Regions from separate parts of the Homo sapiens genome. Here all the other regions are reported to be linked to region 3. Evidence: microRNA targets listed by miRTarBase, many of them from high-throughput screens and not tested one by one. Region 3 holds a microRNA gene; each other region holds the end of a gene's coding sequence.
What was found. The annotated mature microRNA hsa-miR-1287-3p reads CUCUAGCCACAGAUGCAGUGAU and lies in region 3 at 1,409-1,430, shown strand. An mRNA with a match to its seed (bases 2 to 7 or 8) in the 3' UTR can be bound and repressed. Matches are read on the target gene's strand: a 7mer-m8 pairs with bases 2 to 8, a 7mer-A1 pairs with bases 2 to 7 and ends in A, and an 8mer does both.

Region 1: the mRNA of MYLIP is a reported target of hsa-miR-1287-3p. Seed matches in the 3' UTR shown: 7mer-A1 at 1,455-1,461.
Region 2: the mRNA of HEMGN is a reported target of hsa-miR-1287-3p. Seed matches in the 3' UTR shown: 7mer-A1 at 601-607.

What each region holds. Positions count from the first base shown.
Region 1 is chr6:16,146,208-16,149,429 of GRCh38, reverse strand. It overlaps MYLIP (myosin regulatory light chain interacting protein), which reads right to left. Exons shown (of 7, transcript NM_013262.4): 7 at 1,182-2,768. The coding sequence ends at 2,679. It also overlaps the pseudogene LOC124901514. Among named protein-coding and RNA genes, the nearest start is that of MIR4639, 6.3 kb to the right of the region's middle.
Region 2 is chr9:97,924,547-97,927,806 of GRCh38, reverse strand. It overlaps HEMGN (hemogen), which reads left to right. Exons shown (of 4, transcript NM_197978.3): 4 at 329-1,016. The coding sequence ends at 423. Among named protein-coding and RNA genes, the nearest start is that of TRMO, 3.7 kb to the right of the region's middle.
Region 3 is chr10:98,393,402-98,396,661 of GRCh38, reverse strand. It overlaps MIR1287 (microRNA 1287), which reads left to right and starts at 1,355; the gene lies at 1,355-1,444. PYROXD2 (pyridine nucleotide-disulphide oxidoreductase domain 2) reads left to right here. Exons shown (of 16, transcript NM_032709.3): 7 at 1,210-1,271; 8 at 1,369-1,466.

The sequences.
Region 1 (3,222 bases), not on the chromosome of region 3:
CACCTTTATCCTTGGCTCCTAAGCACAATGAATCCCTGCCTCCTGTGCCTCCACTGTTCTTCCCTTCTAATTCTATGATGCCACCATGTAATATAGTGGTTTTCATGTTAGTCACTGAGCTTAAGGCGTCCATATGGTCTAGTGGGGTGAATAATATGTAATCTTATCTGTCAGCCTGTCATCCATCCATCCCTCCATCAACTTGGTTAGCATTTTGATACTGGTATGCCCAAGACTCCCTCTGATGCTAGTATTCGTGGATTCTGCATATTATCTAACTTCCGCGCAGAGACAAAAGTACACGTTACAGGCTAAGTACATGATACAGGCATCCAGAATCATTTATGTCTTGATGACTGCTAAATTTCCAGGGCTCAATAACTTAGTAGGTTTCAATAAATGTGTTGAATGAACAAATTAGTTAATTCCTAGAAATTGATGGAAGATTGACTTAGGTTATAGGTACAGTAAAAACAAATACCCCTGCCTCTAATTAAAAAAAATAAATTTACTTCTTCCAATTGCTACAGATAATTATCACTTATATATATTATGTACAATATTCTCTATTCCAAAATGTATTTCTGGAGAAACACAGATGAGCACACACTGGCAAGCATAGAGCAGTTAGGACCTAGCAGGAGTAGACCAGCAGTCCTGCAGGAATACAGCCCGAGCTTCTGTAGCCCGAGGCCCTTACTGCTATGACCCAGGCCACTCCCCTGTCTTGAGCAGGCCACACACCAGCAGCACCAGCTGGGTTGTTAATTGTTAACTTCCAGCTTTGCCACTTCCTTCCTTCTCCAATAGCTTCCAGTACTTGTCCTGATTTTTTCTTTTCATCTGCTTATGTTCATGACCCCATTTTCCCCTACATACCAATCTAACCACCCAAAGACATAAATAAGAGAATAACCTGGTGAAGTGATCTCCATTAGAACCAATACCACAAATATTTTCAAGTTTTCTTGAAAAAAAAAAAAAAAGACTATACTCTCAAGGATCATTTCTATAGTTTGTTACTAAAGAAGTTTCTCTGAATTTGTAGAGCACCGAAATTATTAAAAAAAAAAAATTAAATTCCCGGTAGGAGGAAAGTAGATACTAACTGTGATGTTACCCCTTGCTTATTTCTTTGAAATGAAATAAAACTGGCTTAAATGACAATACACACATCCATGTTTGCTTTAAAGTCTTTATTATCCCGAATATAAAAGACAGAGTCCTCTAGGATATAACAGAGTTCTTTACGTGGAAACATTATTTTTTTACAAGTGAAAAAATAAATACCTCTTGGAATAAAGGCTTATATGCTAATATGTGCCATAAAAAAGTAGAGTTTTAATATTTGACAAAATGTCTGTGCAAAGAAACAAATGCATAAACACATTACTGCTACATTAAGGCAATATGAAAAGTATACTCAGAAATCTCAGTAAAGTGACAGTGTAGGTTTCTAGCTTTACCTTAGCTAGTATTGCACCCGATAAGGTCATCTAGGTCTCCCGACATCCCAGAAAACCTGCTAGCTGACCAGCTTCCAAAATGCCCAAGTGGGAGTGGAAAACATGTTTAAGAAAACAGAAGCAAAAAGAACCAAAACCCCTTCGAAACATACAGAGGGGACAACCCAAAGTTAATACTTAAGCACTTACTTTAAAAAAACACAACAAAACTCCCCCCCCAAAAACAGAAAAGGACACCATATCTAAATACTTATGGTAAGGCTATAAAAGGCTTGAACAGTTCAAGCAAAGCAACACCAGTGGGTGAAGCTGGGATCGAGTGCTTGGGAGAAGTGATGAGTTAACTACCCTCAGTTGTACACCATGAGGCTCCATCTCTCACTCAGCAAGCTCCGCTTTCCCTTCCCAAGGAGAGTGCTCTCTGTTTTCAGTCTGAAATAAAATATTCCACCAGCTCAGAAGGCCCGGGGAGTACTTGACTACTCCACAGTAATCTTATAACAAGATTGGTAGTATTTTATAATCGAAAGGCTTGTGGGGTAGGGATAGGGGGAGCGTAAAGGAATAGGGAGCCACCCACATTGAGTGAGCTGCTTTTTACTAGCCACACTGGTTTAAATCTGACAACATTGTCAACTTTTTAAAAGTCACAGAATTGATTTGTAAACCTGTTTGCCTTCCAATCATTCTTGATCAAGTTATAAAGACAGAAATGACATTAAAACGACAACAATTTACAAAAGACTTTCCTATTAAAAATGGTTGGAGCTCCATGACCATACAAAAAGAATGAAATTCTTAAAAGTAATTCTTACAAAATCTGCTGCCAGTAGGAAACTTACCTCAGGATACATTAAGGAGACTTACAACATCATTTCCTAAAAGGTACCCAACTTTTTGGCTATGTTGCCACTTCACTGACATCAAAGACTTTACCTATTCCTTTACTAGATCATAAAAAAAATCAACATCCAAGGAATGTGTCTGCGTCCCAGAGCTCCTCCTGGTCCCATGACTGGAGTTGTTGATTCTACGCATGGATATGTTTTTGCAGTGAGGAGTAGCTGTGTTATTTTTCTTCCTTTTTTTTTTTTTTAACATCGCATGGCAGATGGGTGTTGGAATAATTACTTTCTCCACAATCTATCATTTTAATAGTTTATAATAGTGCAGTTCATGGAAACATGCCAAGTCCAACAAAAGCACAACAGATTAGATTACAGTCAGATTGAGAAGACTGGTGTGCGTTGGCAGATAGACGTGCTGGACATGCTCCACACGCGACCTGCAGACGGGACATGACTGGGAAAGAAAAGCCAACAGTCTCTGTTAGCATGCAAGCCTCGGTGGGGGGCCTGTGTCTCTGTGCACACCCCTGGTCTCTAGTGCATTTAATTTTCTAAATCAATTGTGATCACAGTGATTTCTAGCTTTCAATTGGTAGAGATCTTTGCCGTCTCACAGGTTGAAAGTTTATACTTTACAAGGGCTTAAAAATAAATACTATGACATAGTATAAACTGAAGGAAATTAATTACATTTTTAGTGAAACGCTAAAGAAGGTACATTGAATAAAGCAATTACTGAAGACGTCTTTCTGTGCAGAATGTGGTCTCTACATGAGTAGACTATAACACTTCAGGCAGCAATGCAGGAGACCCTTCTTGAAATTGTGTGTCCTTAGCTCAGCTGACTGACTCAGGCCAACATTTCTGGGCTGATGCCCACATGGCCAGGGAGGGTGGCTCTGCTTCTA
Region 2 (3,260 bases), not on the chromosome of region 3:
ACTATGTATATGTTGCAAATATTTTTCCAGTTGTCTTTGATTTGGTTTAACTTTGTTTATAGTGGTTTTCACCATATATAATTTTACTTTTTAGGTATTCGAACTTGCTAGTCTTTTCCTTTATGGTTTCTGGTCTCTGTGTTCTGCTTAGCATCCTAAGATTACTAAAAACACTATTATTTCTATAACTTTATGGTATTTAAAAATTTACCCCATCTACGGTTTGTTGTTGTGTATGTTGTAAAGCAGTTTTTCTTCCTCCAAATGGAGAGTCAATTGTCCCAATACAATTTATTGAATCTATTTTTTATTTTATTTGATTTTACAGAAATGAAAGAAAAACCCAAAGAAGAGCCAGGAATACCAGCAATTCTGAATGAGAGTCATCCAGAAAATGATGTCTATAGTTATGTTTTGTTTTAACAATGCTCAACCATAAAGTTGTGGTCCAATGGAACATACAGCTTAATAGTTTATGCGTGATTTTCTCAAAATATTGTAAAACTTTTGACAATGCTCATTAATATTATTTTTTCTATTTGTAGACCATATCTGAAAGAAATAACATTTTTTAAGGCTCTACCACATAGACAATATCATGCTAGAATGTGTGTGTGTGTGTGTGTGTGTGTGTGTGTATGTATGTATAGGTCGGGGAGAGGATAGTGGTGGGAACAGACAAATAAGGAAGCGGGGAGGACTGGATAATTGGTTTTCCCCCCTAAGAACATTTATTTACGTCTTAAGAGCAGATAAGTGACTAAGACTGAACACATACATTTTGTGGAGTATATAGTTTTCTTGTAAATGCTGTTCAATTATTAATGTAACAGTAGCATCAAAATTTTATTCAGGCTTTAGTTGACTCTTTTGGTCAGTTTTAACAATTCTCCTTAAAAGATATTTTGGAGTGATGAATGTAGTTTACTTTTGTATTTGAATTTTGATTTTCTATTTTTATTTTTTAAATATTGTATTTGTGCACAATGTACATTAAATCATTATTACATGCTTAACTGTGTGGATACCATCATGTTAAGAATTGCGGAGGTTAGAAGACCTATCTAACACCCCACGGTGGGGTTAATTTGGTTTCATGGGGAAATAAAACAGAAAACAAATAATCACAAAAGAAAATAGTAAGGGCTGGTGCCATTTGAATGGTAGATACAAACAGAGAATGCTCACTTTTTGCTGGAGTGACCTGAAAAAATTACACAGGCATGAAGCCTTGAAAGACGGAAAGTATTTGCATAGATGAGGATAGCAGCATTACTGTATGTGACAAAGAGAAGGGTGAGTTCAAAACATGTTCAAGAGAACTGCAGGCAAACTATGGTTAATGTAGAGTCCATATGAAATAGTAGTAGGCTTGCATGCTGAAAAGCTCATATTACTAGAGCATAGAATATTTTGCTTACCTAACCAAGAAATATATCACTTGTTAAAAATGGGGAATGAAGTCAGATTTTTGAACAATGGAATGGCAATTTCACTATTTTAGGAATATGGTAAATATGGTGATAATGGTAAAGATTAACTGAAAACGACAAGAGACCGGGGCAGGAATAGAAGCTGTTCTGGATGGGAAGATGTCTGAAAATCTACCCTGGTATTTTTTGTTTTCACTTTTCCTTCTGTTATTACAGAGGACTAAGGATATTTTTGCAAATAAAGTTTCATTCAGCAAGAACACACTTGCACAAGCTTTCCATATAGACACTGTGCTAGGTACTAGCTATATCAAAGAACAAGACAGGGTCACAGTCCCTCAGGCATTCATGGTATAATGAACATGAGAGAGCAGTGGTTCTTTCAACCCTTCTGGTACATTAGACTCACCTGGGAAGGTTTCAAAAATACATATATGTCCAGACTTCTCCCCCAGGGATTCAGATTCCCCCATCTAGCTGATGTACAGGCATAGGTATATTTATTTTTTAATTGTTTTATGCTTCAAATAATAGTTTTTGGAGGAATAATTTTAGAATTACAGAAAAGTTGTCATGATAGTACAAAAGTTACTATATACCTTTCGCCCAGTTTACACCAATGTTAACGTCTTACATAACCATGGGCCATTTGTCAAAACTAAGAAATCAGGATAGTTACACTACCATTAACTACAGACATTATTCCGTTTTCATGAATTTTTCCACTAATGTGCTTTGTCTGCTTCAGGGTCCAATCCAGGATATAGAATTGCATTTAGGATGTTTTTATTTTAAAAGCTCTCCTGACAATCCTAAAGTGGAGGTAGGGTTGAGAACCAATAGTACAGTGGGATGTTACAATATTGTTTCCCTCCTATCTGCCTACCCCCTTTTGTGTGTACATTAAATTTTTTACCATCAGGATGTATTCATTGCACAATTATTCATACCCCTATTATATTTATTACACAACATACTGAGGGCAGGGCAGCACAACCACATAATAGTTTCGTCTCTTTTTTTTTTTTTTTTTTTTGAGACGGAGTCTCACTCTGTCGCCCAGGCTGGAGTGCAGTGGCACCATCTCGGCTCACTGCAAGCTCCGCCTCCTGGGTTCACGACATTCTCCTGCCTCAGCCTCCCGACTAGCTGGGACTACAGGCGCCCGCCACCACGCTTGGCTATTTTTTTTTTTTTTTTGTATTTTTAGTAGACGGGGTTTCACCATGTTAGCCAGGATGGTCTCAATCTCCTGACCTCGTGATCCTCCTCGGCCTCCCAAAGTGCTGGGATTACAGGAGTGAGCCACCGCGCCCGGCCACAACCATATAATAGTTTCTTACCTCTCAATGACACTTCAACATTTATACTTTCACATAAACTATTTTATTTGATCTGTACAAAAGTATGTGAAATAGGCCAGGCGGTGATTATCACTCTCACTTAAAGATGAGGGAATAACATAGAGGGAAGGTACTCACCCAAAGTCACATCTGACTTCCTCAGTGCTTTTTTTTCTTCTTTGGAATGTGCTTCTGTCTCAATTTCACCTGCCAGAGTGGGCCAAAATTAGAGGAAAAAAAAGAGTAAACTGAAGTCTCAAGTTCTAACAGCGTTGCATTAAGATGGACCTTAAGAGATTTGCATACGTACAGTGCACAGGAGCACAAAGATGAGATGGGGAAGGAGAGGGAAAGAGGAATGCAGTACATTAGAGGAAGCAGAATTTCTCTCTCCACCTCTCGGGACCCTTTCTGCTTGCCCTCTTACATCACTCCCTGCATTCACACACCACTTCTGCTTTCTCACCATTCTTGTTTAAACATC
Region 3 (3,260 bases):
CCAAGAGATTTGAAGAGCTGCCCCCATACAGGAAGAATGCTAGATTTGGGCTCAGCAAGGAGAAGTTCTGTGATCAATTAGTAATGTCTGCCATGAGTATGCGAATGGAAGGCTCATTAAGTGTGCTATTATTTTCTACCCTCCTTGAGGGTATACAGACCAGTTTAACCTCTATATCCTAGAAAAAAAATCATTTGTTTCCCACATGTCTTCGTGGTTCAGCTGATTCCAGCTGGCTCAGCTGATCTGGTTTGGTCTCAGGCATGTGTTTGTGTCTGCAGCAGCTCAGTGGAGGCAGCTCTGCTCCAGGTACCTCTCGTCCTCCTTGTAGAAGCACATGCTGACCTGGGTGTGGACTTTTCACATCAGTGGCACAAGCACAGAGGGCATGCCCCAATGTACAGGCCTGTTTCAGTTCTGGGTTTGTGTCACATCGGCAAACATTCCACTGGCTGACCAAATCACATGGATGAGCCCAGAGCCAAGGAGCCAGGCAGGTTAACCAAGTTGTGGTGGGTTGAGAGGCACTGCAGACTTATACATTGCAAAGAGTATGGAGCCAGTGGAATCTATTACAAATGCAAAAAGTAGACACTGCCTCTCTCTCAGATAACCAGTCCAAGGAGCTCTGTGTGAAAAACAGGCAAAAAACATTTATTGAGCAACTACTATGTGTCAGACACTAAGCTAGGCCCAGGGGCTGTAAGGCTAGAGACCATGATTTCTACCCTGAAGGCCTTAAAGCCTAGTTTCTTTCTGAAATGGTCTGAATCAGGGTCATAGGAATGGATCAGCCATGCCAGCCTTCTCCCAGGATATGGGCCTTCCAGAGTTCGAAATAAGGGAATAAGGTACAAGTTTAAAATTTTCCAAAAATAATGCTAACTGCTTAAATGTATTAAGTACCCATGAACTTGCAAATGCTTTACCTAGCTCATTTAATCCTCACCGTAGCCCTTGGGGTGTAAAATAGGATTCCCATTTTACAGGTAAAGAAGCAGGTTCAGAGATGTTAAAAATGTGTCCCAGGCACTGCAGCTAGTGAGAGGTGTGGCCAGGACTCAAGCTGGATCTGTCCCTGCATTGGCTGTGCTATACCACCTCCTGGCAGGAAGTCTCAGCATCCTCCATGCTTTTATCCCCCAGGCCAGGTCGGAGGGTTTCCCTGTCACCTGTTTCAACTTCTGTTTTGTGGATCTTCTCTTGTAGGCCGCATCCTGGGAGCCCAGCTTCCCCGATATTATGAGGTCCTCACAGCTCCCATTACCAAGGTGAGTGGTTCCCCAGCCTCAGGCCCGACCAGGCAGTGAGAGGGCCCTCCTCCCATCCAGGCTCCTAAGCCCTTCTCTCTGCTGTTGTGCTGTCCAGGTGCTGGATCAGTGGTTCGAGTCTGAGCCTTTAAAAGCCACTCTAGCCACAGATGCAGTGATTGGAGCCATGACAAGTCCCCACACTCCGGGGAGTGGGTGAGTGAGGGGGGTGAGGTGGGACACAGGAGTGGGGCATGTTCCCCAACAGGAGTGAGGACAACAGTGGCAGTGGCAGCAACAACAGCTGCCACTTAACAGAGCTCACCCAGTGAGCCAGGAACCGAGCCAGGCACATCACACACGATCCACTTAACCCTCAGAGCAACATCTGAGAACTGCGGTTCAGAGAAGGGAGTGTCTTGCCCAAAGCCACTCAGCTGGTAAGTGGCAAGGCTGATTTCCAGCTTGAGGTGTCTGACTCCCCAAAATCTTCCTTTTTAGTGACTGTGCCCTACTGCTTCACTAAGAAAAGCCTCTCTCCCACCTCCCGCTTGATAGCTCAAAATTAATATCTTCTTTTCTCTCCTCTTCCCTTCCCTCTTCTACCTCTCCACTCCCGCAAACGCCCATTCTCCCTTCTCTCTCACTGTTCCTTCCCCTGGGCTCTGGTACACACTCACACAGACACCTCAGGATGGACAGGAAGCTGCCTTTTTCTTTATGAGTGAGGGTTTGTGCTGACAGCCCAATCCGAGAGGTGGCAGTCAGACACAGCAAAGCCTGCAGTGTGGTCTGACTTAATGAGCCCCCGCAGAAGCAGGAATGGAAGGCTGTGTGTGTGTGTGTGTGTGTGTGTGTGTGTGTGTGTTGGGATGGAGAATGCAGCCAAGGGTTGGGCCGTTTCCAGTGCACCAGAAGATACAGCTAGAAGCTAGAAGCTAGAAGGCGTCGACGTGGCTTTTCTCTCAAGGGATGAGCACACCCTCGGAAGTGGTTTTTCAACACATATTAAGCCGGCCCCAAATTCCCCCAGGGCGATGGAGATGGGGGCTTGGCAGCAGTTGCCACACATTGGCCAAGCTGTGATCTACCAGCCAATCTGGATCTTCCAGCTGGGGCCTCCTGCCCTTTTCTCTTCGGATCCCTGGGAGGCTTAACCAGTGCTCCGTTTGTGATCTTTAAGTAATCTGTTCCATCATTAATTCTTCCAACAAATATGGATGAGCGCTTGCCTGTGCTAGGTGCTGGGGATACGGTAGTGAGCGGAGCAGATGTCCTGATGGGTGAGAGACACAGAGCGAGTGATGATGATGAAGTGGCGTGAGTGTGATGCTAGGAGGAGCAGCCGGGACACAGCCTGGTCTAGGGTCAGAGAAGCCTCTACATGGAAGAGGTGTTTGATCTGAGACCCAAAGGACAAAGAGGAGTTAACAAAACATAAGATGAGGGAGGGAGGGGCTTCAGGCCGACAGAACAGCAGGGGAAATGCTGGGGTTGAGAGAACGTGTGATCCACCCAGGAAATCGAGAGGTTCTGTTAGTTAGGAGGATGGGATATGGATAGGGGGACAGGATGAGGGATGAGGCTGGAGTGCCTGCTAGAAGACTGGCCATTATCCTAAGAGCAGTGCCAAGCCGGGGAGGCTTGGAATGGTGATAAGTGAGTGGCAGGAGCAGAGCTGGGCTTTAAGATAGGGCTCCAGGATATATGTGGACAAGACCTGCAGGAGAGAAAGTGTGGGAGAGGGGGTCCAATGAGGGGCACTACTGCAGCAGCATAAGGAAGAGAAGAGAGGCTGAGAGGTGGGATGACCTTGAAAGCCCTTTGGAGGCTGAGTTGGTGTTGCTTTGTGGATGTAGATGGGGAAGGATGGTAGCGGTCAAGGCTGACACCTGGATTTCTGTCGGAAACAGAACCTCCTGTTGAAAGGTGCCGTTCACTGGGATGGGAAAGATTGAAGGGGAAGCAGCTGGAGAATGGGGAAAAGGTGGTGGGTTTAAGATGCTGCCA